7 linked regions of the Homo sapiens genome follow. The protein of the gene in region 1 purifies or fractionates together with the protein of each later gene. This does not show direct contact. Each region holds a gene or a part of one and is shown in the gene's direction. Other genes may lie near its edges.

What was found.
Region 2: the proteins of HIC1 (region 1) and DNMT1 purify together in Homo sapiens (affinity purification with western blotting; one study listed by BioGRID). This does not show direct contact.
Region 3: the proteins of HIC1 (region 1) and THOC7 purify together in Homo sapiens (affinity purification with mass spectrometry, with the first as the bait; one large-scale study listed by BioGRID). This does not show direct contact.
Region 4: the proteins of HIC1 (region 1) and BCL11B purify together in Homo sapiens (affinity purification with western blotting, with the first as the bait; one study listed by BioGRID). This does not show direct contact.
Region 5: the proteins of HIC1 (region 1) and POLDIP3 purify together in Homo sapiens (affinity purification with mass spectrometry, with the first as the bait; one large-scale study listed by BioGRID). This does not show direct contact.
Region 6: the proteins of HIC1 (region 1) and GOLGA4 purify together in Homo sapiens (affinity purification with mass spectrometry, with the first as the bait; one large-scale study listed by BioGRID). This does not show direct contact.
Region 7: the proteins of HIC1 (region 1) and IARS1 purify together in Homo sapiens (affinity purification with mass spectrometry, with the first as the bait; one large-scale study listed by BioGRID). This does not show direct contact.

The regions. Positions count from the first base shown.
Region 1 is NC_000017.11:2,060,429-2,063,845, forward strand, and holds the end of HIC1 (hypermethylated in cancer 1 protein), read left to right. Parts: 3' UTR 1-1,063; coding exon of another isoform or gene 1,064-1,194; 3' UTR 1,195-2,813; downstream 2,814-3,417. Other genes in the region: SMG6 (telomerase-binding protein EST1A), read right to left, coding at 1,064-1,194. UniProt on the Homo sapiens protein: Transcriptional repressor. Recognizes and binds to the consensus sequence '5-[CG]NG[CG]GGGCA[CA]CC-3'. May act as a tumor suppressor. Involved in development of head, face, limbs and ventral body wall.
Region 2 is NC_000019.10:10,153,223-10,157,319, reverse strand, and holds part of DNMT1 (DNA (cytosine-5)-methyltransferase 1), read left to right. Parts: intron 1-810; coding exon 811-929; intron 930-1,374; coding exon 1,375-1,467; intron 1,468-2,263; coding exon 2,264-2,415; intron 2,416-2,546; coding exon 2,547-2,734; intron 2,735-2,840; coding exon 2,841-3,027; intron 3,028-4,097. UniProt on the Homo sapiens protein: Methylates CpG residues. Preferentially methylates hemimethylated DNA. Associates with DNA replication sites in S phase maintaining the methylation pattern in the newly synthesized strand, that is essential for epigenetic inheritance.
Region 3 is NC_000003.12:63,856,796-63,860,892, reverse strand, and holds part of THOC7 (THO complex subunit 7), read left to right. Parts: exon of another isoform or gene 1-248; intron 249-4,097. UniProt on the Homo sapiens protein: Component of the THO subcomplex of the TREX complex which is thought to couple mRNA transcription, processing and nuclear export, and which specifically associates with spliced mRNA and not with unspliced pre-mRNA.
Region 4 is NC_000014.9:99,269,190-99,273,801, reverse strand, and holds the start of BCL11B (B-cell lymphoma/leukemia 11B), read left to right. Parts: upstream 1-1,604; 5' UTR 1,605-2,583; coding exon 2,584-2,641; intron 2,642-4,612. UniProt on the Homo sapiens protein: Key regulator of both differentiation and survival of T-lymphocytes during thymocyte development in mammals.
Region 5 is NC_000022.11:42,597,568-42,601,664, reverse strand, and holds part of POLDIP3 (polymerase delta-interacting protein 3), read left to right. Parts: intron 1-1,871; coding exon 1,872-1,967; intron 1,968-4,097. UniProt on the Homo sapiens protein: Is involved in regulation of translation. Is preferentially associated with CBC-bound spliced mRNA-protein complexes during the pioneer round of mRNA translation. Contributes to enhanced translational efficiency of spliced over nonspliced mRNAs.
Region 6 is NC_000003.12:37,249,396-37,253,492, forward strand, and holds part of GOLGA4 (golgin subfamily A member 4), read left to right. Parts: intron 1-302; exon of another isoform or gene 303-347; intron 348-1,999; coding exon 2,000-2,089; intron 2,090-4,097. UniProt on the Homo sapiens protein: Involved in vesicular trafficking at the Golgi apparatus level. May play a role in delivery of transport vesicles containing GPI-linked proteins from the trans-Golgi network through its interaction with MACF1. Involved in endosome-to-Golgi trafficking.
Region 7 is NC_000009.12:92,287,071-92,291,167, reverse strand, and holds part of IARS1 (isoleucine--tRNA ligase, cytoplasmic), read left to right. Parts: intron 1-245; exon of another isoform or gene 246-332; intron 333-1,741; 5' UTR 1,742-1,748; coding exon 1,749-1,867; intron 1,868-2,885; coding exon 2,886-3,042; intron 3,043-3,194; coding exon of another isoform or gene 3,195-3,257; coding exon 3,258-3,377; intron 3,378-4,097. UniProt on the Homo sapiens protein: Catalyzes the specific attachment of an amino acid to its cognate tRNA in a 2 step reaction: the amino acid (AA) is first activated by ATP to form AA-AMP and then transferred to the acceptor end of the tRNA.

The DNA.
Region 1 (3,417 bases):
GTTTCTCCCAGCACAGGAGCCGAGGGTGGAAGGCCCTGGGTGGGAGACCTGTACTAGGTTCCTGCCATGGGTAGTAGAGAGGGAAAGTTCAGAGTGAGAACCCCTATGACGAGGAACCGCGGTGAAGAAATGAAGGGGATCAGGGAGGTGAAAAGGATCAACTAGAAGGGGAAGAAGGGTGAGGGGCTATTCTGGAGGGAGGGTAGGCGGGCAAGGAGGGGTGAAGGGGGAGCTGAGGGGAGTCAGGACATTTCCTGAAGAGGAAGCTAGACGGAAAGAAAGGCCAGTGAGGAGAGAGGGAGCAGGTGGAGGCCACCCGAGAGCACGGGCCTGAGACCAGATGCCCCTTTCCTCTAGACTCATGACTGTCCACGGGGACGCAACTGGCGAAGTGTGAGGGACCCAGGTTGATAAGGGCAGGAAGAGGAGCAGCAGGAAGGGTGTGTGGTAAGTCTGGGGTGGATGGTAGAAGAGGTGGGGGCCCAGGGCTGCTGTTAGGGACATGCTGTCTAGAAGCCGACTTGGGTTCATGGGCGAGTCCAGGCCTCAGGGAGACTGGGGACACACACCCTGGGCACTTCTTCCTGACTTAACCAAAGCCTCTTGAACACATTCACGACAGAGGTTCTGAAGATGAAAGGGAACTGTGATTTCACTGCATCTGACGGAAACTCAGAACCCCTGCCCTGTCTCCACTGGAGAAAGTGGCTGCGTCCCCAGGCGAGAAGGCCCTCCCTCAGCCTTGGAATGAGACGGGGGAGGGAGAAAGGCTGAGAGCATGGGCGGCCTATCTGGCTTGCCCAGCTGCTGTTGCTGTAGCCAGCCACCTCCCTGCTAAATCCTGGCAGCCCAGGAGGGTCCCAGCAGCTTCCGCCCGATCCTTGGGAGGGGCTCTGTGAGGAGCAGGTCCCCCACAGCATGGCCGTGGCGTGGGTTGGAAGAGGATGGTTTATTGTCTGGGTGGATTGGTGGCTCAGGCACGTGGGCATCTTCCGTGCTACACTGGGCGCCTGGTGGCCTTTCAGGAACGGTTCCACGGGGGGGGGGCCCCAGTGTGGCTCCCTCAGCCCACCTGGGCCCACGTGAGGAAGGCTGGGATGTCCCGTACAGGAACATTCCTTGTGAGCGCCTTCACACGCAGGTTCCGGTCATCCGTCAACAGCACCACCTCCCGCAGTAGCCGGATTGGCTCCTCTGTGGGCATGAGAGAGCAGAAGGCTGTCACTGAGGACAGGAGGCAGAGGGCTGGCTGCTCTTCTCACCCTGGAGAATGTGGTCCTGGGGAGGGGGTGCCACGCTAGCCGTGTCTTGGCTCTTCTACCAGTCCTTTCCTCCGTCCGGGCTCTCAGCCCCGGGGACCCTCCCCTGCTGGCCTAGAGAGGGCTGCACTGGGCTTCTGCCTTGACTCCGGCCTCCCATACAGGACTCTCTTCTGCCTAGTTCCCAAAAGCTGCCCAAACCCGTCAGCCTCCCAGGACCCTAAACTGAGGGAATAGAAGCAGCCCCTTGACCTCTACTCCTTTTTACCACATGGCTGGCCCCCAGATCACAACACCGCTCTCCCCACACCCCACTTTTTTTTTTTTAACAAGTCCTCTCCCTCTAAAAGCCAGCAGGTTGAAGCTTTACGCATCCAGAGGCAGAAAACTAAAGATGGAACAGAAAATGTATCCAGGGTTTTCCAGATGTGGGGAGAGGGGTTAAGGGAGCCCTGAGGAGAGGAGAGGGTAAGGGTCTTGGCAGAATTGTGCCAAGGGCACACCAAGGCTTTGGCCAACCGGTCGCCCCTGCTAAGTAACAGTAATCCATGTATACAGGCGAAAGTCTCTAAGAGGACAGAAGAGTAAAAAGGAAGAGTAGAGTTAAGATGATGATCCCAGTTCTCCGTCTTGTACCCCAGGGAAGACCTGTGTATCCTTCCAGGTTTCTTTAGGCACATTTACAAGTACATACACTTGGACATATAACCTTTTTTTCCTACAGCATCATGATCATATTAGCCACACTTTCAGAGTATATACTTAAAAGGTCTTGCTATAGTGGCACAGATATCTTTCATTCTTTTTAGATGACTTTTTTTTTTTTTAAGCACAGTCTCTCCACTACCTCTCTTTCCCTAACTCCCTAATCTTTAACACATTGGAGAGAATTTAAGCCAGGGACAAGCACTCACACAAGTGACATCCCTACCCTGACAGGCCTGCTTGGGTGGCAGGTCTACTCGTCAGTCCCAGGCTGGGCATTTCCTGACAGAGGTCCAGGTCCGGCAGACAGCAAGGCACAGGAAGTGTCCTGCTGTGCTCACTGACTGCGTGGGCTGGCGGGGGTGGGGGGCTGCAAATATCCATGTCGGACCTGAGCAGTCTCAGGCTTGCCAGCTCCAGGCAGGGAGGCTGAGAACTGGCTTTCAGCCTGGGGAGGAGTTTGGAGGATTCGGGAGGGAGAGGTTTGTGGGGTTGGTGGTGGCGAGAGAAGAGGACAGGAGGAAGGAGAGTGTGAAGGGAGGCAAGGGGCTGTGGGCAGAGGGGAAAGGAAGGTGGCCTCGGGTGAGGGGATACTCAGAGACTACTCAGCTGCCTGGGCCAGGCCCCTCTGCAGATAAGTGTGGCTGGGGTGGTGGTATGCAGGGCTGTGTGGGGCTCCCAGCTGACTGGCTGCGTCTGTAGCAGCCCCACTATTCCTGCCCTGGGCCTCAAACCAGGAGCGTCCCAGGCCTTAGGTCAGCTAACCAAGGCCCGACATTGCTGGCAGGGGTCTGCAGGGGTTTCTGTGGATACTTTGACATTTTTCACAATAAACATCCTCTGTTTTGACACTGGTAACTTCACTTTGTTAGAAACCAGAGACTGTCATCTTGTCAGGCCCCATCCGCCATAATCCACATGATTTTAAAATTCAACATCGTTTACACATAAACATTTAGTGACGGTTTCTCTGTGAATCTGACAAGTTAATCTGCTAAGAATTCACACTGACAAATGGGCTTTGATTACACCAGCCATTGCTGATGTCATTCTGATAGGGGCGGTCCCCCGGATGGCAATGGGTTCCTGTAGGCTGTTTGGGGTGAAGTCGGGGGTGGGAGGACTAGTAGGACCAAAGCCAAAATGTGTCCGTTCTGAGAAAGAAAGTTCTGAGGCTGGGGTGGGGCCCAGCAGTCCTGGAACCACACTTCCCAACAAGGCCTTCAGCAATCCCGCCTACCTTTCTCTCAGGAGGTACCCCTCTAGGAAGCTCAGGCTTGCCAGCTCCAGGCAGGGAGGCTGAGAACTGGCTTTCAGCCTGGGGAGGAGTTTGGAGGATTTGGGAGGGAGAGGCTTGTGGGGTTGGTGGTGGCGAGAGAAGACGACAGGAGGAAGGAGAGTGTGAAGGGAGGCAAGGGGCTGTGGTGGGCAGAGGGGAGAAGAAGGTGGCCTC
Region 2 (4,097 bases), on another chromosome or scaffold:
CTAAATTGAGGTCTAACTCGTATAATATAAAATTAACCATATGAGGTATCTTGAATAGGTGAATTCATAGGTATAGAAAGCAGATTGGTGGTTGCCGGGGGCTGGGGGCTGAGGGCCGGTTGGGAGGAGACTGGAGAGTGACTGCTACTTGATGGGAATGAGGCTTTATTAACATTTGAGTGACAGAAATGTTCTGCAGCTGAATAGAGCTAGTGGCTGCACTGCATAGTAGAAGGTGTTCTAGAAACCGGTATTTCCCGCACTGTAAGTCTGACTGATCTTTTGGTGTTGCTGTTGCAGACACACATACACTTGATGCTTAGGTGGGAGAATAAGGTAGAAACTCTGGGTGATAGAACGCTGTCTTAATCCAGTGTTCCCGCAACCAAAAAATGAGTGTCGGGGCCAGGCATGGTGGTTCAGCCTGTAATCCCAGCACTTTGGGAGGCTGAGGTGGGTAGATCACTGGAGATAAAGAGTTTGAGACCAGCCTGCTACACATAGTGAAACCCCGTCCCTACTAAAAATACAACAATTAGCCGGGCATGGTGGTTCAGGCCTGTAATCCCAGCTACTCGGGAGGCTGAGGCAGGAGAATTACTTGAACCCGGGAGGTGGAGGCTGCAGTGAGCCAAGATTATGCCATCGCGCTCCAGCCTGAGGGATAGAGCAAGACTCTGTCTCAAAAACAAACAAAAAAAGAGTGTCAGACTTGTACATTCTCTCATTGCCTCGTGCCTGATCTGAAGTCTGCACGAAGACCCGCCTTCACGGCTTAGCTGGTAAGCATGTGCTTTGTTTCCTGTCTAGTGTGTACTGTAAGCACGGTCACCTGTGTCCCATCGACACCGGCCTCATCGAGAAGAATATCGAACTCTTCTTTTCTGGTTCAGCAAAACCAATCTATGATGATGACCCATCTCTTGAAGGTAAGGAATAGTCCGGGATTATGTTTGGGGCACACTTTAAAAACAGCCAGGCAGGGTGGCTCACATCTGTAATCCTAGCACTTTGGGGGTCTGAGGCCAGAGGATCACTTGAGCCCGGGAGTTTGAGACGAGCCTGGACAACATAGCAAGAGCCTGCCTCTATTAAAAAAAAATATATAGCATATATATATAGTATACATATATACTTATATATATGTATAAATAAAAAACATACTTATGAAGCAATAGTCAGCTGGAGTTGCTGCTGCCTCTTAAAGTTAGGGTGTGAGACTTTGTGCCAGGAGCAGCTGTAGGCCAAGTCATTGTGATGACTGAGGAGCACCCGACCTGGCTGATGGGATGTCTGCTGAGTGGGCGCTTAGAGCGCCTCCTGGGTTTGGGATGTGAGTCAGAGCCTTTAGTCCATTTCCTTTTTCTGCTCTAGGTGGTGTTAATGGCAAAAATCTTGGCCCCATAAATGAATGGTGGATCACTGGCTTTGATGGAGGTGAAAAGGCCCTCATCGGCTTCAGCACCTGTAAGTGTGTGGCCCATCATAGGCTGGCCGGGGTCTGAAAGGGGCCTTCATGTTCTCCTTCCTGGGGGCTGACGGGGCTCTGGTGGGAATTCTCAGCAGGCTTGCAGAAGGCCATGTGACTGGGAACCTTAGCAGGTTCAGTTGGGGTAGCCTCTTGTGTTAGTTATGACTGGCTCTGGAACTGACTCTCCAGTTGTAAGAGCAGGTCTTGGCCGGATATGGTGGCTCACACCTGTAATCCCAGCACTTTGGGAGGCCGAGTTGGGGGGATCATTTGAGGCCAGGAATTCGAGACCAGCCTAGCCTGGCCAACATGGTGAAACCCCCTCTCTACCAAAAATACAAAAATTAGCCACGCATGGTGGTGCATACCTGTAATCCCAGCTACTTGGGAGGCTATGGCAGGAGAATCACGTGAACCCAGCAGACAGAGGTTGCAGTGAGCCGAGATCACGCCACTGCCCTCCAGCCTGGGTGACGGAGCAAGACTCTGTCCTCCCCTGAAAAAAAAAAAAGAGCAGGTCTTATTCTTGCAACCCAAACCCAGACTGAATTCCAAACACCAGAGATGAGCTCAATGAAGGCCTACTCAGCTAGTCTTCGCTCTCTGGCTGGCTCAGACAGGCTTCTTCAGAACAAGCCAGCTATGATGTGTTGTGCCCTATGTTTCTGACATTTGGGTACGGGATGACTTTTAGACTGTTGGGTGAGTTTGGTAGACTCCTCCATGCCCTGTGGCCACTGTAGGCGCCATCAGATTCCAGCCCCTTTTCCACACCTCCTCTGTTCACCCCAGCATTTGCCGAATACATTCTGATGGATCCCAGTCCCGAGTATGCGCCCATATTTGGGCTGATGCAGGAGAAGATCTACATCAGCAAGATTGTGGTGGAGTTCCTGCAGAGCAATTCCGACTCGACCTATGAGGACCTGATCAACAAGATCGAGGTAAGAGATCGAGGGTCCTCAGCATCCGGGATTCCCACTGGAAACTTGCCTTCAGAACCAGCAGACACTGTTCTTCAGTTGGATTTAGGCCAGTTTGGCTTAAGCATGAGAGAAACCTGTTCTCTTTCAAGACCACGGTTCCTCCTTCTGGCCTCAACTTGAACCGCTTCACAGAGGACTCCCTCCTGCGACACGCGCAGTTTGTGGTGGAGCAGGTGGAGAGTTATGACGAGGCCGGGGACAGTGATGAGCAGCCCATCTTCCTGACACCCTGCATGCGGGACCTGATCAAGCTGGCTGGGGTCACGCTGGGACAGAGGTAAGGATGCGGCAGGGACCAGAGTGAAGACTGGAGACCGGGGAGGGTAGAGCATGGCCCACATCCTCTGTCCCAGTCCTCTGAGATGCTGGAACCTCTCCCGTAGGCGAGCCCAGGCGAGGCGGCAGACCATCAGGCATTCTACCAGGGAGAAGGACAGGGGACCCACGAAAGCCACCACCACCAAGCTGGTCTACCAGATCTTCGATACTTTCTTCGCAGAGCAAATTGAAAAGGATGACAGAGAAGACAAGGAGAACGCCTTTAAGCGCCGGCGATGTGGCGTCTGTGAGGTAACCTCACCTGTGGGTGCTCCCGCTCCCCTAAGGTGGCCCAGCCTCTGGCCTGATCTGAGGACTGCTCCATCTTTCTCTCTGTGGCTTGAGACTCTGGCTGCTCAAATGTGACCCCTGAGACAGAAATTAGTTAGTGGTCTGGGAGGACCCTGCATACTTCATTGAACGTCAATAGGACAGATGTCCACAGAGGCATGCTTGGGTGCTTTGCTGATAATGCCACTGTCCTTAATTGAAGAGCCTGGCTTCTGGGTGGCTCTGCTGTGCCTGCATCTCACAGTCTGAAGGCCCCTGTTGGACTGCTAAAGGGGTATTCACATCTAAGTGGGCACTTTGTCCAGCTTAGATTTGAGGCCCTCAGGAGGCGTCCCTTTCTGTGAGTTTTTAAAATATATGTTTACTTCACTCAGGAGGAACTAACTTCCTAGTCCTATGACCCAAAGACCAGGACTATTTTGATACCTATTACCTGACTTTCTTTTGGATAAAGACTGGCTTCAGGGCTTTGCTTTTGATCCCCGCTGGCATCTCTTAACAGGAGCCTGCATGTCCTCACCATTGTTATTTTGGTTTTATTTTATTTTTCTTGGTTAACACACGTGTGTCCAATGTTTTATAACTTCTAAAATCTTTTTTTTTTTTTTTTAATTTTTTTGAGACAGTCTCTCTCTGTCACCCAGGCTAGAGTGCAGTGGCACCATCTCAGCTCACCGTAACCTCCGCCTCCCGGGTTCAATCAGTTCTCCCACCTCAGCCTCCCGAGTGGCTGGGATTATAGGCACCCGCCACCATACCCGGCTAATTTTTTTTGTATTTTTAGTAGAGATGGGGTTTCACCATGTTGGCCAGGCTGGTCTTAAACTCCTGACCTTAAGTGATCTACCTACCTCGGCCTCCCAAAGTGCTGGGATTACAGGTGTGAGCCACTGTGCCCAGCCCTAAAATCATTTGTTTTTATTTGTGTAACTGTTACGTGTTGATACTGGTAGATCTAGTTATTTCATTTTAAATATTCTGTAGTATTTTGTTAAATGAATATCCTAACTTACTCCTCAATGATAGGCACC
Region 3 (4,097 bases), on another chromosome or scaffold:
AGAAGTAGTTGACCTTCTGCCTACTAGCCATATTATTTTATGCATATTGCTGCTGTCACCCTTAATACGTTATTTATATGCCTTATGCTAGAAAACATTTAAGGCAGTTCACTGTAATGAGAAAATATAAAAATTAAACGGATTAGAAAACAAGACAAAAAGAACATTGAGATTAGGAAAAATAAAGGGAAGTCAGAAGTGGGGTGATCCTCAAAATGCAGGAGGATAAAGTCTAGTACATTAATTAACCAAGCTGTAAGTGACCTGTTTCTCCAGTAGGCCATTCTGAGAGGCAGGACCTCGTCTGCTCTGTGATCTAGTGTTCATGAGAGAAGGCAATCTTAGATGCCCAGGAAAAGCACTTTTTTTTTCTGATTTGAACTAGAGGAAAAGTTTATCATTGAGGTCTTTATAAATGAAAGCCAGTGTCATATCCTTAACCTCTTTTCAGCACTGAAGATCATAGAGCTGTTTTGTAGCACATCCCTTGCTAGGTAAAAGAAGGCTAAATCACAATTTAGAAAGACATTCTAAAGCCAGTAGAGGCTGGGTGTGGTAGCTCACACCTGTAATCAATCTTAGCACTTTGGGATGCTAAGGCAGGAGGATCACGTGAGCCCAGGAGTTTGCGACCATCCTAAGCAACACAGCAAGACATGATCTATACTACAGAATTTTTCAAATTAGCCAGGCGTGTGTGGTGGTGTGCACCTGTAGTCTCAGCTACTCATCTCTACTAAAAATTTTCTTAAATTAGCCAGGTGGAGTGGAACACACCTGTAGGTAGTCCCAGCTACTCAGGAGGCTGAGGCAGGAGGATCACTTGAGCCCAGGAGTTTGAGGTTGCAACGAGCCATGATTGCACCACTGCACTCCAGCCTGTCAACAGTGCTAGACCCTGTCTAAAAATAAATAAATAAAATCAATGGACAATGTGGTTTAGGTGGGTAGTGGGTAGCTCTGCTGATCTGGCTTGATTCAAATCAGGGTTTTTTGATTGAATATCTAGACCATAGAGGAAAGACAAACTACAACTTCTTCAGACAATCCTCTATAAACATGGTTTTTGTCAGCTGAGCTTTTGAAAAAATCAAGCTGAAATGAGTGGTATGTGTGATCCGTCAACAAGTATTTATTGCATACCTTCTAGGCACAATGCGAGGTCCTGGCTACTTTGCAGTGAACTAGACAGAGGAGGGCCCTGGCCCCTGCTTTGGGGAAAGAAGCCATAGTGTGCAATCAAATAAGTAAATAAGATAATTTCTGAAAAGGAATGTAATTAAGTTCTGAGAATGAACTTGATGGAATGAGGACAGAGAGTAATGGGGGAGGGCAGTGATACCTGACAGGTTCAACCACATGAAGAGCCCAGGAAAGTATTCCAGATAGAGACAACAACTAGTGCAAAGGCCCGAGGTGAAAACAAGCTCTGCACCCTTTAGAGGAAATAAGGAAAGCCACTGGGCTGGATCTAGGGACAGGACTGCATCCAGGTGGGCCAAGAGGAGTACGATGCAAAAGGAGGTAAAAGGGAGCTCAGGAGGAGCCTTGCAGGCTTTGGAAAGGAGACTGAATTGTCCTTTGTGGGCATTTAGAAATGATAGGAGGATTGTAAGCAGGAGAGTTAGTGATCCAATTCATCTTTTAGATCATTCTGAGTTGCATAAAAAATGGATTCTAGGAAGGCAAGAATGGAAACAGGGAGTCCAATGCAAAATATTCCAGATGAGAGAAATGTGGGCTTGGATTAGAGCGATGTTAGTGTGGAAGATAGAAGTGGATGCTCTTGATATCTCATTCATCCTCCTGGAAAGCTCTTGGAGGAGTACCAGTACCTGTCCATGGAGCTTACATAAGAGCCAATGTCTTTTACAAATTTGATGTGCCTGTATCACTGTCCCTTCATGTAATCCATTCCTCTGGGTCTGCGTATCCAGTTGGACTGGGAGCTCTTGAAGAAGCAGCCCTTTATTTCCTGCACTCAGTTTGAGGAACTGCCCTGCTTTAGAGTAGCTATAGCTACTAGACTGGATATTTTCACCACTACTGTCATGTTATAAGTGAAAAAGTAGAGGTCTTTGGAAGTTAGTGACTTGCAGTCACACAGGTAGTTTGTGACAAAGCCATTTTCTCTCCTTCCCTTGTTGCCAACTCTAGCAGTCTGGCTAGCTGAAAAACAGTGTGGATGTTGTCACTGTTAATTTAAACTATGTTAACTGTATTTTGTATGTGTTAATTTAAAGGATGCTAAATATTGTTAGTACCCTGATAGAAATCATTTCAGAAGCACTTTTTGCACTACAGAGAACATTAGGTGATATATTGATATGCCAGAGCAACAGATGAGAGATGGAGAAAGGGGTTGGGGTGGAATGTGGCTCTACATTCTATTTAATAAAGCTTGCTGGTTTTGACGGTAGCTTTTTTTTTTAACTTAGAAAAATGTAATGCATGAATATGTACTTGTTGCAATGTGAAATAATGGTTTTTAATATGCCTACGAATAATATGACAGAATAATGGAGCTGCATTATGACTTTCTAATAATGTAATTGTATATATTTTTCTGTGAATGCAGAGGTGAGTAGTAACTCATCTGTGAAAGGAAGATAATAGTACACACTTTGTAGAGTTGTTTCAAGGATGAAACATGATAATATATGTAAAGCACTTTGAAGTTGAGTGACCATTTAATTTATTGTGTAAACCAGGACACTTTTCAGAGTGAAAAGAAACAAATGGGTTGTGTGGTCACCAACTAGGGTGGTATAAATGCTGTGCAAGTGTTTGCTGCTGCTGTTATTCCTATTTCAATTGCTGATCCAATGTTAATTAGACATTTGTGGGCACAGGGTTCTTTTGTTTTTGGGTTTTTTTTTCATTAGTGCCATTGCATTTGCCCACTTTCTTCCATCTTCTGTGGCCCCAACACAGGGATAACTGCTGCAGTTCAACTATGAAATGATGTTTCTTTAGCCAAGATAATTGGTTTTTCAAAGCAAGATGGACATTTCACCTTGACTTTATTAGCACTATACTACTCTAAACATTTAAATAGAGAGAAAAGACAAAGGACCTCAACATGATGTTTTGCATTTATTTTCCTTTTAAAATTTTAAATTTAATTTTGGTGCACGTAATTTACCTTGGCATCAGCAATTTATGTAGACCAGTCAGAAGTATCTTAGGAGAGGTTAATATCTACATGGAGGAATCAAACCATCTTATTGTTCCTTCCACCCACCTTTTATGTGTCTCCTTAATATTGTTGACCTTAAAAATTGTTTTAATGGCTTTGAGCTTTTTGAAAGGAGGGACCAGGTGTTATTTTACCATAAGGAATGTAACACAATGGGCTAATATGTGTGATTCATCTTAATAACATGAGCTGTGGTGGTCTAACGATAAATCTTACAGGAATCTGCATGAACATTTTTTTTACATGGCCTTAGTCTCTCTTCTTGTTCATTTAAAGTAGGTCAAATCAAGCCAGTTTTCTTTGTTGTTGTTAACATATCATAGCTTTATTCAGTAACGGAGTAGAATTTTTAATACAGAGAAAATGAAGTACCTGAGAATGATAAATAAGTTTACCACCCAGTTAACCACTGTTACTACTTCATAAAAAAAGTACTACATGTCAGTAAATTCAAGAAGAAATGCACAATATGAAAAATGAAAACCTTCCCCTCTTTACCTTCCGTAATAATTCCTCTCCCAGAATGATTTTTAATGCCTCTAAAAGGTAAAAGTATCTTCTCTGGAGCCTGACTCCTGAGTTTGAGTTCCATTTCTATTCCTTACTTCCTGTGACATTTAATTTTTGGCAAGATGCTTTTTCATTGGTAAAATAGGGATAAGAATATCTATAATGAGGCCGGGCAAGGTGGCTCACGCCTGTAATCCCAGCACTTGGGGAGGCCGAGGCGGGTAGGTCACGAGGTCAGGCGTTCAAGACCATCCTGGCTAACACGGTGAAACCCCGTCTCTACTAAAAATACAAAAGAATTAGCTGGGCGTGGTAGCGGGCGCCTGTAGTCCCAGCTACTTGGGAGGCTGAGGCAGTAGAGTGGCATGAACCTGGGAGGCGGAGCTTG
Region 4 (4,612 bases), on another chromosome or scaffold:
TTTTTAGGGTATGGGACTGGAAGGGATCTCTTTCTGTTCTCGCTCACGGACTCTGGGCGCTGTTAAATTGTTGGTGCCATCGCCCCACCCAAGACCTTCGGGACGAAAACAAAAACCCCCGTGTGCCCCCCGAGGAAAAGGCCCCGAGGGAGGCGGCGCTGAGGCGTCACGGCCTCGCCATGCGCCCGGGTGAAGCCGCCGGAGCCAGGCCTGGGGGCGGAGTGGGGTGGGTGCAGCTGGACTCGCCCGCGAAGCCTAGCCGGAGCCAGGCCCCGACCCGCCCTGGCCGCCTCCAGAGAAACCCTGAGAAGGGAGAGGAGGCCAGCCGCGTGGCGCGCCCAGCCCTGGAGGCCAGGTCATCAAATTGACAAAGTTGGCCACAGCCTGGGGAATGGGGGGTGTCCACGGGGGCCGTGGTCTGGCCTTGTCCCCGGGCCACGGAGAGGCCCCACAACTCCTCTTGTCCTCGCCGGTTGGAGATCAAACGGCTGACAAGGCAGCTGCGTCCTTCCCAGTCTGACAGGCATTTCCAAGTCCTACCCTGGGCCGAGGAGCGCGGGGGGCGGGGTGTGACTTCCAGGTTGCTGTGATTGTCAGGGGCGCCTCCTGGAGTCACCCACCCGAGTATCTGCGGAGATTTGGCCACACCTACTCCTGGGCTGGCAAGTCCAAGTCCCTCTCCCACGTGGAGCGCCCCGGTCCCTTTACCCTCTCGCTTGCCATAGACCCAGTTTAGGAGGTGGGGTCGTGTTTGACCCCAGGAGTTAATCGGGGTAAGGTGAGGGGAGGGGACAAAGATTTGAGTGAAAATCCTTTTCCAAGTGGGACTCAAACAAGGTCTCAAACACTTCTCACCCCCTCACGTGCTCTTGATTCTGTTGTCTTAGTGTCGTTTATTTTGTCATCCTCACCCTCCCAGAGTCTGTAATACCAGGATTTATATGGAGACACTTTTTGGAAGTTGAACTCCAACATCTACTCCCCTCCCCTCGCCGCCCGCGACCATAAAACAAAAGTAAAAACTACCAAGCGACTTTTCCAGGGAAACGAAGCGATTCTTACTGTCCCCCCAACTCCCATGTCGACCCCAACCCTTTTCCACAGTCCACGCCCCCACCCCCAAAGTCCAAGTCCGAAAGAGCTTTTGGGTGGGTGGAGACTTGCATTGATTCAATTTAGTTCACTCACACAGCACCCCGCCCCCCTTCTCAGGGGGTCCTGCTCCCAGGATGGAGGAGATATAAGGACGATTTTTCTTTTATTTTAAAATAAGCTGCCCAGTGGCCCCCCCCAACCCCCTCCCGCTGTTGCGCAGCCGGGGCTCGGGGGAGATGAGCGCACAAAAACGCGGTTTGCACGTGTGTCCGGCTTGGGCTGCGGGTGTGCGCAACTGGCGACTGTGTGTGTGTGTGTGTGAGTGTGCGCGCGCGCGCGAGTGTGTCTCTGTGTGTGCTTTCTTGTTCTCTTACAGGGTACAATGTTAAAAAGCCACCGCTAGTCGCCCCCAGTGCTCCGACTCTCTGGGTCTTTTTGTCTCTAGTGCAGATTAAACGTCACGTCCGCACTTGAACTTGAATTTTATCCCATTGTACAGAGGCAGCCCCAGCCATAGAGAGACCGAGAGCTCCCAGAGAACCCGGACTCCGCCATCTTCACGTTGCAATCTATAGCTCCCAGTCTGCGCCCGCACCGACCCAGGCGCACTGGGCGAGCCGCCCCTCCGCCCCGCTCCCCCCGGGCCCGCGGCGCCAGGGGAGCGCTGGGGAGCGCTCGCGGGGACTCGGCAGCCCCTCCGGCCGGCGCCAGCCTGCCAGGTGAACTGGGAAGGAGCCTCTCCTGGTGTCCCCCCAGAGCCTCGGAAGGGTCAGTCTCCGAGAAAAAACAAAAACAAAAACAAAAACAGGCAGCCCGCAGAAAACCCAGAAACAACCGAACCGGGGCAGTTTTACATTGCTTTGGGTTTTTTGAGGGGGCGGGGTGAGGGGGTACGAGACAAGTCCCCAAGTTTTCTTTGCTTTTTTTTTTCCTTTGCTTTTTCTTCTTTTATTTTTTTATTTGTTTGCATTTTTTTTCCCCTCCTGGTAGAAGTGCGCTTTCCACCTACCAGACCCTGAAAGAAAGTGTCAGGAGCCGGTGCAAAACCCAGTTTAAGTTCAAGAAGACATTTGCAAGTGCAAGAGGCCAAGCAGTTTGAAGAAGTGTAAGAGATTTTTTTTCCTTCGAAAGAATATATTTTTAAAGAAACCAGCCAGTCCGCGGAAAGCAACAGCAGTTTTTTTTTTTTTTGCCTCTTTTTCTTATTTTAGATCGAGAGGTTTTTCTTGCTTTTCTTCCCTTTTTTTTCTTTTTGCAAACAAAACAAAAAACAGCATAGAAGAAAGAGCAAAATAAAGAAGAAGAAGAGGAGGAAGAGAGGGAAAGAGAGGAAGGGAAAAAAAACACCAACCCGGGCAGAGGAGGAGGTGCGGCGGCGGCGGCGGCGGCGGCAGCGGCGGCAGCGGCGCGGCGGCGGCTCGGACCCCCTCCCCCGGCTCCCCCCATCAGTGCAGCTCTCCGGGCGATGCCAGAATAGATGCCGGGGCAATGTCCCGCCGCAAACAGGGCAACCCGCAGCACTTGTCCCAGAGGGAGCTCATCACCCGTAAGTGTCTGCGGAGTGCGCGCGAGGGGCCGGAGATGGGGCTCCGGGCGTCTGGGGCTGGGGACACCGAGCCCGGAACAGCCGAGCCTGGCCAGGCGCCGGGGCCGCCCGCTGGCTGGCAGAGTCTACGGCGTCGGCCTGGAGCATGGCGGGGGGCGGGGGCCATAGGAAAGTTTCTTTGCAGCCCGGGGAGTTGGGGCGCCGAGCAGCCGGACGCGCCTCGGGCTCGGGGGCCTGCGGAGCCGGCTCCGGGCCGGGGAGGGGGCATGCAGGCTGGAGGAGTGTGTGTGTGTGCGCGCCGAGCCCGGCTGGACGCTCGCCCCTCCGAGCGGCGTGTGTGGCGGCGGCGGCGCTGGTGGCGGGGTTTGGAGAGGAGGGGGAGGGGGCTGGGGGAGCGGAGGGGGAGGGGGAGCCGGGAAGTGGGGAAAAGTTGGCGAGCGCGTGGGTCCGCGCTGACGGCGCGGGCGGAGGAGAGCGGGGTGCGTTCCGGCTGGGGGAGCCGTAGGGCCAGGGGCGGCCGCCGGCTCCGGGTCCCCGGTCCCTGCGCCCGGCCCAGCAGGGTGCCGGCCGCGCCAGTCCTAGGATTCCGCAGCCGCCTTTCTCTCCCCTCCTCCTGCTATTTGCAAAATAATCCAGCTGCGCGGCTGTTTGCCGGGCTCAAGCCCCCCTCCCCACCCCCCACTTCCCCACCTCCGTCTGTCTCCTGGGATGATCTTGTCTTCTTTCCCCCACTTCAAAAAAGGTGGGGGGATTGGGGTTGGTGAAAAATCCCCGCCACGAGGAAAAAAAAAAAGGTTGTCAGTTAGGAGTGGGAAGAGAGTGATGCGCTTGTAAAATAGTAAAAGAAAAAAAAGAAAAAAAGGAGACCCATCAATCTCGTATCCATCTTTCTATCTCAGTATCTTTCATCTTTCCTATCTAAATAAACAAGGCAGGTCGCAGTGGAAATCCACCGGCTGAAATCGTGTCGATTTCAAGCATGTGGCTGGGCGGGCAAAGTCAGGCAGCGGGGCAAGACAAGCAGCAGCTTCCACCGTCCCTGTTGGGTTTATTTAGCAGAGGGGAAAAGCGAGCGCGAGCGGGCCAGGTACGGTGTTTGCAGGGGAACCCGCCCCGAGTCCCCGCACACTTGCACCGGGAAGGTGGCTTTGCGGCGCTCCCCGCCCGCCGCAGCCCGCGGGGCGGCTTCTTCGCTGCGCGCGAACATTTCCCCGCCGTTCTTTCTCTCGCGGTGCCTGGGTCGCCGTTCCTTTTTTTTTTTTTTTTTTTTTTTTTTTTTTTTTTTAACTGCAATAGAAATAAAACATCCTCTGGGTGCCATCGAGACCGCGGGCAGGTTATATGCTTGCAATCCGCCGCGCACCTCGCCGGGCTGGGGCCGGGCTGCCCGCGCGGAGCTCGAGAGGGCTGCGCGCCCAGTCACCGCAGAGGACTGGCTGCCGGGCGGCCGAGAGCCGAATATTTATGTTATATTTTAAAAAATTTAAATAAATAAATAAATATATAAAGTGGTTCTCCCCTCCCCTGAAAACCCAGCATAGGAGCCATCTGCTCGGAGCAATTGCTGTTGCCATCTCTCCTTTGTTACAGCAGATACATTAGTAAGAATTTGTGGATTTATTATGATTTTTTTTGGGGGGGGGGGAATAGAAATTAAAGTGGGATTCGCCTTGGGAGAGGGATGCCTCTTTGGAGGAAGGGAAGAGGACTTCTCTTTTATTTTTCGCCGTTGTAACACCAAAGAAGACTCGCCGGCTGCGTTTAAAACAAAATGTTTTGCAGCTAGATTTGAGCTTGGTTTGATCAAGGTCTTTTTTGCCAGTTGACATTTCGATCCTTTACCAAGCCACAGCAATCGCTTATTCTACACCCTTCCCCCTTTAGATGGGGTGGTTGTTAAAACGTCTATACTTGCAGAGGCTTAATTTCTCCAGGAGGCAATTTGCCCCACGTAGCCTCTGTATAATTGCA
Region 5 (4,097 bases), on another chromosome or scaffold:
CTCAGCCTCCTGAGTATCTGGGACTACAGGCGCGTACCACCACACCCAGCTAATTTTTGTATTTTTAGTAGAGATGGGGTTTCACCATGTTGGCTAGGATGGTCTCAATTTCTTGACCTTGTGATCCCCCCGCCTCAGCCTCCCAAAGTGCTGGGATTACAGGCGTGAGCCACCACACCCAGCCAAGAAGAAACTTCTTAATAGAGGAAGGGAGGCATAGGGGGCAGAGAGGCTAAAAAAAGTTTTGTTTGTTTTTTTTAATTTTTTTACGCTTTTTTTTTTTTTGTCTTTTGTTTTGTTTTTTTTTCCTTTTTCTGGAGAACGGGGTCTCGCTATATTGCCCAGGCAGGTCTCGAACTCCTGGGCTCAAGCTATCCTCCCGCCTCTTAGCCTCCCTGAGAGCTGGGATTACAGGTGTGAGCCACCGCGCCCGGCCTAATTTTTTTAAATAAAAGTTCTATGTGCTTAATATAGAAAACTTGCCAAAAAGTCCCTCAAGTTCCTATTCTCCAAAGCCAGTCACTGTTGAAATTTTGCCATAGTTCCTTACATGTACGCTTCTTTTTTTTTGATACAGGGTTTCACTCTGTCCCCCAGGCTGGAGTGCAGTGGTGCAGTCATGGCTCACTGCAGCCTTGAGTTTCTGGGCTCAAATGATCCTCCCACCTCAGCCTCCTGAGTAGCTGGGATCACAGGTGCATACCACCACATCTGGCTAATTTTTGTAGAGATGGAGTCTTGTCATGTTGCCCAGGCTGGTCTCGAACTCCTGGGTTCAATCGATCCTCCTGCCTCTGCCTCCCAAGTAGCTGGGATTACAAGCATGAGTCACCGCGCCTGGCTAATTTTGTATTTTTAGTAGAGACGGTGTTTCTCCATGTTGGTCAGGCTGATCTCGAACTCCTGACCTCAGGTAATTCGCCCACCTTGGCCTCCCAAAGTGCTGGGATTACAGGCGTGAGCCACTGTGCCCAGCCCCAGTCTGTTTTTTACTTAACTCATAGTTGTGGTTGTGGTTATATATTCTTTTTTTTTTTTTGAGACCGAGTCTCGCTCTGTCACTCAGACTGGAGTGCAGTGGCACGATCTCGGCTCACTGCAAGCTCCGCCTCCCGGGTTCACACCATTCTCCTGCCTCAGCCTCCCGAGTAGCTGGGACTACAGGCGCATGCCACCATGCCCGGCTCATTGTTTGTATTTTTCGTAGAGACGGGGTTTCACCATGTTAGCCAGGATGATCTCGATCTCCTGACCTCGTGATCCGCCCTCCTCGGCCTCCCAAAGTGCTGGGATGACAGGCTTGAGCCACTGAGCCCAGCCATGGTTATATTCTTATCCAATTTTGTATCATTCTTTTTTCACTTTGTAACTCAAGCATTTCTCTGTGACATTTCATATTTACTGTACATGTTTTAGTAACTGCAAAATCTATATAGTTGGCATTCCAGTTTTATTTAAACCATTTTCCTGTCATTTTCACTGTTAGAAATCCTTCTGCTGTGAACATCTTTGTAAATAAAGCTCTTTCTAGGGTTTGGATTTATTTCTGTAGGTCATATTAACAAGGATGGACTTTCCAAGCCAAAGGATATAAAGAAACATTTTAGGGACTCTTGGTACATACTGCCCACTGGGAAAAAGGGACTTCTGATGTATCTGGAAGTTGTAGGACTTTCACTGGGTCCTTGCTGACAGGGAGTTAGCCTGTGAAGACTTGGGCCCCAGTCTTTCCAGGCACCGTCACCCCTGTGCCCACTTCTCCTTGGTCCCTTTGTTTCTCCAGCAGCCATTTCCTTGCCATGCCTGTTCTAGATGTCTGTTGAGGGCCCAGATGCCACATTTGCTTATATTTCTTTATGTTATATTCTCAGAATTTATATGACCTGGATGAAGATGATGATGGTATAGCTTCCGTTCCTACTAAACAGATGAAGTTTGCAGCCTCAGGCGGCTTTCTCCACCACATGGTATGGCATTTCATGTTTTCTTACACTGCGTGTCTGATCAGGCAGGTGGGAGAGGTCGTGTTGAATAGAACCTGTTGTTTTTTTTGTTTTGAGACGACATCTCGCTCTTCTCCCCCAGGCTGCTGGAGTGCAATGGCGCAATCTTGGCTCACTGCAACCTCCGTCTCCTGGGTTCAAGCTATTATCCTGCCTCAGCCTCCCTAGTAGCTGGGATTACAGGCGCCTGCCGCCACGCCCAGCTAATTTTTGTATTTTTAGTAGAGATGAGGTTTCACCATGTTGGCCAGGCTGGTCTCAAACTCCTGACCTCAGGTGATCCGCACGCCTCGGCCTCCCAAGGTGCTGGGATTACAGGCGTAAGCCACTGCGCCCGGCGTGAATAGAGCCTTTCAATGCAGAAATATTTCTTTGTTTGGGCCGTAAGATTTTCAGAGCTGGAACTAGTCCATTCCCTTAGTTTTATAAACGCTGAGACACTGGGGTGCCTTCTGATTTGTTCAAGGTCCCACAGCAAGTGAAGTACAGGGCTGCAGCTCCTAGGTGCTGTGTTTGAGACACTATAGGGAAAGTGTGAGTGATCCCACAGTGGGGAGTCTGTGTTCTTTCCTTGGTGGCTGGCCATTCTGCATGCTTCGTAACCCTTTGTGGTCAGCAGCTCTGGCGCTGCTCTTGGAGTCTGGATTCCGTTGGTTAACATTAGCAGGAATACATCTCACCTGATCTGTGGGCTCTACCAGGTGCAGCCTGCATGCAGGGAAAGCTTGCTAGGCTAGAGTGTTGGTCAGACATCATGCAGAGAAGGAAAGAAAACAACATCTGGGATCATCAGGGAGGTCCATGCTGCTCAGCTCAGTGGTACAGCCAAGTGTCAGACAGGGAGGCCAGTGGGCTGCCTAGGTGGGTCCTTGTGGCAGCCACCTCTTTTGTTTTTCCTTCAGACGCTCAAAGACTCAGTTTTGGTTACTGTCCTGAGTATGTGGACCAGCCTCCTGGTTAGTAATTAAGAGAAATATGGGCCAGGTGCGGTGGCTCACGCCTGTAATCTCAACACTTTGGGAGGCAGAGGCGGGCAGATCACAAGGTCAGGAGATGGAAACCATCCTGGCTAGCACGGTGAAACCACGTCTCTACTAAAAAATACAAAAAAGTTCGGGCGTGGTGGCTCACGCCTGTAATCCCAGCACTTTCGGAGGCCGAGGTGGGTGGATCACGAAGTCAGGAGATCGAGACCATCCTGGCAAACATGGTGAAACCCCGTCTCTACTAAAAATACCAAAAAATTAGCCAGGCGTGGTGGTGTGCGCCTGTAGTCCCAGCTACTCTAGAGGCTGAGGCAGGAGAATGGCACGAACCCAGGAGGTGGAGCTTGCAGTGAGCCAAGAGGCGCCACTGCACTCCAGCCTGGGCGACAGAGCGAGACTCTGTCTCAAAAAAAAAAAAAAAAAAAATATCCGGGGTGTGGTGGCGGGCACCTGCAGTCCCAGCTACTCGGGAGGCTGAGGCAGGAGAATGGTGTGAACCTGGGAGGCAGAGCTTACAGTGAGCCGAGATTGTGCCACTGCACTCCAGCCTGGGCGACAGAGTGAGACTCTGTCTCAAAAAAAAAAGAAACATGAAGCTGGCTCGGCGTGGTGGCTCACGCCTGTAATCCCAGCACTTTGGGAGGCTGAGGTGGGCAGATTACCTGAGGTCAGGAGTTGGAGACCAGCTTGGCAACATGGTGAAATCCCGTCTCTACTAAAAATAAAAAATTAGCTGGGCATGATGGCGCGTGCCTGTAATCCCAGCTGCTCGGGAGGCTGAGGCAGGAGAATTGTTTGAACCCCGAGGTGGAGGTTGCAGTGAGCCAAGATTGCGCCACTGCACTCCAGCCTGGGTGACAGGGCGAGACTCCGTCTCAAAAAAAAAAAAAAAAAAGAGGTCGTGAAGCTGAATGATGCCAGTTTGTTTCTTTACAAAGGGACCAGGCCTTTCCAGTAATTAGACTGCTCAAGTCTGCTATCAAGGGAACTATCAGCTTGCTCAGTGAGTCTCTATCCCTATTTGATACCCTAATTGAATAAATGCCATATTTATACTCATGCGTCTTGTACCCTGTGAGATGGGTACTGTTGATTACCCTCGTTGATG
Region 6 (4,097 bases), on another chromosome or scaffold:
CATTGATTGATTTTCTTGTTTATATGCTTTTTTTTTTGAGACGGAGTCTTGCTCTGTCACCCAGGCTGGAGTGTAGTGGTGCAATCTTGGCTCACTGCAACCTCTGCAGTTGAAGCAATTCTCCTGCCTCAGCCTCCTGAGTACCTGGGATTACAGGCGCACAACACTACTCTTGTTCATGTTTTTAAGTCCTTATTCTTCCTGTTTTGTCTTTGGTGGGAGAGGATATGTCATCCCTTAAGGTGACTTCTGCACATAGCTAATTTCATCTGTTGTATTGATTTTTCTGGTTCATCTTTTAGAAGGTGTTGGAGTTCTTGGTTGTAAGCAACAAAAAGTCAATCTAGGTAAGCAGAAAAATAATTTATTGAAGACTCTTTACCCTACAGAATTTCCCTGAGGTCCCAAAAGTCTGAGCTGATTGCTACGTCCAGTTATACTGGGGAGACTACTCTGTGTTGCAGCTGCTTCAGCTTGGCACCAGCATTGCATCTGTCACTTCACAGCTTATATTTGTGTGGATGCATGAAGTTCTGTCTCCATTGTCATCAGATGATGAACTTTATTTGTATGTCTGTTTTTTCACATCACTCACTTATGACTCGAAGTCTCATGTGTTTCATTGATGGAGCTCAGGTTACCCTGTCTCAGATAAAAAGAAGATTGGGTTAGTAAGTTTTCTGAGTTCTAACTTACGGACTTATAAGAGCTGTTTATAGAAAAAAGGTTATTAAACTTTTGTCATATTTGTAGATGCTTTTCCTCACCTCCCAATTAAACTGCTGCTTTGATTTGTTTTTCACATAAAAATCTCTTTCCCATTCAGAGATTGTAGAAATAGACTCTTGAATTTTTTGTATTTCAATAAAAAAAATTAAATCTTTAATATAGCTTAAGTATGAAGGATCTGATTTGTGTGTCTTGCCCCATATGGATGGCCAGTTGTCCCAACATTTATTGAATGTCTATCCTGATGCAAAATGTTACTTTTATCATAAGCTAAATATGTATATGTCTGTCTGGATGTATATATGTGTATATAGAGTATGTGTATATTTGTATACTATTCCTCACGACCTCTCAGTTCCACCCTAACCACAGCAGTTTGTGCACGGATACCACAGACCAGAGTTCCATTTGTTTATTCATTCATTCATTTATTTGACAAATATTTATTAACTGCCTTTTGTAAAGTGCAGACTACAAAAAGAGGTAAGATATCATGACTCATTCATTTCTCAAAATAGATCTGAGTTCAGATCTATTTTGCTGTGGGTGTAGGGGGATTTCAAAATTTTGGTTTTATACTTTTAGGGTTGTTTTTAGCTCACCTTAGAGTAGACCCCAGACCTCTAGTTTAAATTTTGAGCCCTTTCTCCTGAGTTTTTTTGCGCTGAGGGTTATAGGAGTCAGGCTGTCAATTACAGAGCTAAATGGAATAGCATCTCAGTATTTAGCAGTGGTATTCAAGGTAGGCTCAAAGCAAGGCCATTAATTAGGTGGGCAAGTGCTGTTTATCTGTGCATTTCATACTATTGAATGTTAGAGCTAGAAGGTAGAAGGGATCTTAAAGATTGAATTGCCAGCCTTTTTTTTTTAAATGAACTTCTAATTTTGGAATAATTTTGGTTTATAGAAAAGTTCTAAAGATAGTGCAGAGAGTTTTTATATACCCCTCACCTGGCTTCAGTTTTCTCTAATATTATCATCTTACACTAGTATCGCAACTTTATTTTATATATGGAGACACATAGTCCTCAAAAAGTTCATGTAGCTAAGATCATAGTTCTAGTTGGTGGCAGAGTTAGGCCAGGGACCTAGTAGGTAGCCTGGGTTTTCTAGTTGATTATATTTGTTATCCTTTTCTGCTTTTCGTGTTTTTGCTCTTTTCCTTTCTTTCACTGAATTCTTTGGGCATGGACTGAGAGAAGGACTACCTAGTTCATAGTTCACTAGTCAATATAGTCTTGCTAATTTGTGCAATAATTTTTAAATCTAGGCGTCCTCCAATTCTTCAACACCAACAAGAATGAGGAGCAGGACATCTTCATTTACAGAGCAACTTGATGAAGGTACACCCAATAGAGAGGTAAGTTTGGAATTCCTTTTCTAGTATACCTCTCAAAAGAAACTAATCTAAAATGTATGCTGTTGATAACAAAATGGGAAACTTTTGACAGGTCAGCTATTTAATTCCTAGGTAGAGTTTTTATTAGTAACACAATTGGTCTTTTTTTTTTTTTTTTCACAAATAGCAGTTATGATTTATGTCTGTCTGTCTGTCTGTATGTATGTATGTATGTTTTTGAGACAGGGTCTGGTTCTGTCACCCAGGCTAGAGTGTGGTGGCACGATCACTGCACATTGCAGCCTTGACCTTCTGGATTCAAGTGATCCTCTAACTTCAGCCTCCTGAGTAGCTGGGACTATAGGCGCACGCCACCTGCCTGGCTAACGTTTAAATTTTTCGTAGACGGGGTCCCACTATGTTGCTCAGGCTGGTCTTGAACTCCTGGGCTCAAGTGATTCTCCCAATTATGCTTTATAAAGTATGGTTGTTGAGAACCTTAATTTGAGAGGATAATATGTTCTGGATTTAATAGTTGAAGTTTTCAGAATAATTTGATAAATTTGTTCAACATAGCATCATTTTTTCAAGCTGGTGAGTGGAAACTGAGAAGTAACTTATTTAACTTATTCCATGTAACCAGCAGCTGGCATTAAAACTCATTATTTCCCACTTTTTTTCTGTGAAGTGTAACACACATACAAAAAGAAGGTAAAACATAAATGCACGGGTCAGCAAATTATCATGAAGTGAATCCTCCCAGGTCAAGCAAAGGAACACTGTTAGCACTGTCGTGCTCCCTTTCCCCCTGAAGGATTACCACCATCCTGAATTTTTGGTATTTGCTTGCTTCCTTTTTTTTTTTTTTTTTAATAGTTTTACCTCTTAAATATGCTTTCTAAATGTAAACATTGTAGTTAAACATTTGGGTTGTCTACAGGTTTTGGCTACTATGAATTATGTTGCCATCAACATTATTGTACTTTTTTTTGGTGTACATGTACCTGCATTTCTGTTGGTATGTACTTTGGAGTAGAATCACTGCTCCATTTTAACACATAAGAAGATAATGCTGATGGTTTTCCAGAGTGGTTGTAGAAATTTAAATTCTCACCAGGAGCTTATGAAAGTTGCTTTTGCCCTATATTTTTGAGAGTCTTTATTTTTCTACTCTGTGTAAATATGCTGGAAAACAGTCTTTTTCATTTCAGCTGTTCTGGTGGTGGTCTTTCATTTTGGTTTTAATTTACATTCTCTGATAACTAACGAGATTGAGCATTTACATCTGTTTATTGCCCATTTGATGTCTTTTGTGAGTGCTTAAGTCCCTTGCCCATTTTCTATTGGATTATCTTTTTTTAAAACTGATTTGTAGGAGTTTTTTAAAAAATATAGAATACTAAGGAGTTTTTTGTTGAATATATATCTTGCAGCTATCTTCCACTCAGTGGCTTGCCATTCATTTTAATGATGTCCTTTGATGAACAGAAGTTCTTAGTTTTAGGCCAAGTATGGTGGCTCATGCCTGTAATCCCAGCGCTTTGGAAGGCCAAGGCAGGAGGATTGCTTGAGTCCAGGAGTTTGAGACCAGCCTGGGCAACAGAGTGAGACCCTGTTTCTGCAAAAATAAAATAAAATAAAATTAGCTAGGTATGGTGGCATGCACCTGTGTGGTCCCAGCTACTCAGGAGGCTAAGGCAGGGGCATTACTTGAGCCTCGGAGGTCGAAGCTGCAGTGAACCATGATTGCACCAGCCTAGGTGACACAGTAAGACCCTGTCTTTCAAAAAAAAAAAAAAGCCTGGTTCCCATCCATTTCCCATCCCTGACAGTACCTTCTATCTTAGAAGTTTAACAAAATGAGAAACCGCATAGGGTACAGGGAAATGATGAAAAAATTAATTTAATGTCCTTTTAACCAAAAACTTAATTATATAATTGAAAAATCCTTTATTTATTATAAAATAAGTTGAAGTAAGGTTTAGATTGCACTCTGTGGTCAAAGTACCTGTTAAAGTTGTCAAAAAAG
Region 7 (4,097 bases), on another chromosome or scaffold:
AATAGACTTTGAGAAGGAAAGGTCTCAAGGGTGGCTCACTAGATACTTAAGTCATAGATTGATCAAGTATCTCTGCATGAGGTTATTAGCAAAACATTTAAAAAGACACTTTAAGACTTCTCTCATTAGGGACTAAACCAGAAAGGTATAGGGCTCATCCTTCATAAAAATCATGAATAAGCAATAAAAAGGGTAAAATGGAAAACTGGAATCTATATTTGAATGTGAGATTCTCATCTTTTTAGCTTTAAGATTTTTTAAGTTTTACCAGTTTTCCTCAAAGAGAAGATGAAGTTACTTCAAGAGAACTGATTTCTGTCATGTGAGTGTAGGTAAGAAAATTCTTAACTACTTTGAGATATTTTTCTTCAGATTATTAATGAGTTTTTTGCACCACTAGATAGAATTTCCAAGATTTTCCTGCTTACTTTTGGAAACATTGTCTCTACCATTACTGAATATTAAATAATAGCCATGTACCCCTCCCTCACACCATATACGAAAATAAAATTATTTGTGGCCTAAATGTAAGCGAAAAATCTATAACCTTGTTTAGGTAATGGTTTATTGATGACACCAAAAGCTCAAGCAGCAAAACCAAAAATTGACAAATTGGGCATCATTAAAATGAAAAATCTTTGTGCTTCAAAAAATGCCATCAAGAAAATAAAAAGACGGCCCACAGAACAGGAGAAATTTTTTATAAATCATATATCTGATAAAGGATTTGTATCCAGGATGTATACATAACCCTTAAAACCCAACCACAAAAAGAGCCCAATTAGAAAATAGGCAAAGGATAAATATCTATCCAACGTGGATACGCAAATGGCCAATAAGCATGTGGAAAGATGCTCAGCATCATTAGTCCTTAGGGAAATGCAAATCAAAACCACAAGATACTACTTAACATCTCCTAGAATGACTGTAATTCAAAGATGGACAATAAGATGTGTTGGGTAAGATCTGAAGAAATTAGAATCCTCATTCACTGCTGAGGGAATGTAAAATAGTACAGTCACTTTGGAAAAATTTTGGCATTTTCTCAAAAAGTTAAATACAGAATTATCATGTGACCCAGAAATTCTACTTCTAGCTACAAACCCAAGAGAAATGAAAACATAGATCCACACAAAATTTTGTATGTGAATGTTCATAGCAGCGTTATTCGTAATAACCAAAAAGTGGAAACAATACAGGTATCCAAGAAATGATGAATGGATAAACAAAATGTGGCATATTCATGAAATGGAATACTATTCAGCTATCAAAAGTAATGAAGTATGAATACATATTACATCATGGATGAGCCTTGAAAACATGCTAGAGAAAGGAAACCAGATGCAATAGGCCACATATAGATGATTCCTATAAATTTTCCCATTTATATGAAATGTCCAGAATAGGTAAATCTGCAGGGACAGAAAGAAGATAAATCGTTGCCACTGGCTATGGAGAAGAAAGAATGGGGAGTGACTGCTAATGGTTTTGGGGTGTTTTGGTGGGGAGGGGAGGTTGAAAACGTTTTGAAATTAGGTATTACTAGTTATACTACCTTGTAAATATACTAAAAAGCCACTGAATTGTACACTTTTTACATTACACTATGTAAATTGTACATCAATAAAGCTGTAATTTTTTAAAAGTATGGATAGTGTCATGTACACCCATGTTAATAATATGGTACTCTGTTATTCCTAGATTTCTCTTTTGACAGTAATAAATTTGATTTCTTTTGCAGCAACAAAATGCTTCAACAAGTTCCAGAAAACATAAATTTTCCTGCTGAAGAAGAGAAAATCTTGGAGTTTTGGACTGAATTTAATTGTTTTCAGGAATGCTTAAAGCAATCAAAACATAAACCAAAGTATGTGAATTTTTTAGGTTAAGTTCCCTTAAGAATAGTCATTTCTTAGACTGAATTCCATTAAAGCAGATACTTTTTTTTTTTTTTTTTTTTTGAGATGGAGTCTCGCACTGTCATCCAGGCTGGAGGGCAGTGGTGCAATCTCTGCTCACTGCTACCTCTGCCTCCCGGATGCAAGTGATTCTCCTGCCTCAGCCTCCCGAGTAGCTGGGATTACAGGTGCCCGCCATCACACCAGCTAATTCTTGTGTTTTAGTAGAGACGGGGTTTCACCATGTTGCCCAGGCTGGTCTCGGACTCCTGACCTCAAGTGATCCACCCACCTCGGCCTCTCAAAGTGCTGGGATTACAAGTGTGAGCCATCACGCGCGGCCTAAAGCAGATACTCTTTATTAATCTTTCTATTCCCAGAATCCCCCAGCTCCCTATGTAGTGGGTACTCAGTAGTAGATATACATTGAATGAATGAGTTCTCAATTATTGGGGTAAATTTTGTTTCTTTAAAAGGTCATCTGAGTAAAATTTATGTGTCATCCTCCGTGTCACCCTCTTTCCACCTTTATTTTCATCACCACCCTCGTTTAGGCACTTATACCTAAGTACCCCATAGAAGGCTACTATAGTACTACCTGCCTTTAGTCCTCATTCACCTAAAAGACTAGTCCTTTAATCAGTGTTTTCATTATATGTCTCCTCTGGTCAAAAACTATGAGATAGGGGTTTATTGCCCTATTTTACTGATGAGATAACTCAAGATCAGGATAAATAATTTGCCTTATGTCATGGAACTAATAAATGAAAAATGGATAATCAAATGGAGGTCTCTGTAGCTCTACCACAATTGTAGCCTTTCTGAAGGCAGGACCACCAGTAAATATCAAATCAATTATGTCTGTCGGTTTCCTGATCTTGCTGCTTTTCTCCTTGAAGACTCCACTATGACAAGAGCTATCTATAGAAAAATGCCTTAAATTTTGGCTGTTTTTAAATGGCTTGATATATTTTTATTACCTGTTAGATTTACCTTCTATGATGGTCCTCCTTTTGCAACTGGACTGCCTCACTATGGACATATACTTGCGGGTACAATTAAAGATATAGTTACAAGATATGCTCACCAGAGTGGGTTTCATGTTGACAGAAGATTTGGATGGGATTGCCATGGCTTACCTGTGGTATGTTTGAGTATCCAGCTTTATAATTTTCTGATTTTTTTTATAAGCATTAGATTTTGTCATATAATATGTTCAAGTATGATGAACGTTGACTGTCAGACCTTCTAGTTCATTTCTATAATATTTGTAGTTTGATTTGTTTTGTTTTCTAGAGTTGCATAGTTGCAGTTGTTTTCATAGGGCAGCGTGGTAACAGTCTTATCACAAATTTTCAGGAATATGAAATTGATAAGACACTGGGAATCAGAGGACCAGAGGATGTGGCCAAAATGGGGATTACAGAGTATAACAATCAGTGCCGAGCAATTGTGATGAGATATTCTGCTGAGTGGAAGGTATGTTGGGTTTTTTTCAGTAGAATGAACAGCAAATGTAGTTACTAAATGGGCATTGAAATGGTTTATGGTCCCTTGTGCTTTTTTTATTAATTTATTTTTTGTAGAAAAAGTGTTAGCTTCCACCTTCAACCCTATTACTTAAACGGTTAGCTTAAACTGAACCATCTCTCTTCTGACTTCTGTGTGCTTAATTGGTCTAACTTTCTTGCATGATCACCAATAGGGAAAAATTCTAATAAGTATAACATGATATATAGGCCTTTTCTTTTTTTCTCAAATACTTTTTTCAATTTTTTTAACTTTTCATTTTGAAATAATTTGACTTATTAAACAATTGAAAAAGTAGTATGATGGGTTCCCCTATATCCTTCATCCATCTTTCCCAGCTGCTAACATCTTCGGTAACCATAATATTAATAGAATTTTCAAAAGCAGTTGCCCCATTAATTTTTATTTCTGACCAATCACATATTGCATTTGGTTGTCATGTCTTTTTAGTCTTCTTAAGTATGGAACATTTATTTAGTCCTTTGTATTTCATGGCCTTCTCACTTTTGAAGATTGCAGAACAGCTATTTTCTATAATGTCTCTCAATGTGTGAGGTTTCCTGATTTAATTTAGGTTATGCATTTTTGGTGACAATGCCACAGAAGTGATGCTATGCCCTTCTCAATGCATTATATCAGGTGGCATGTGTTGCGGCTATGTCACATTGA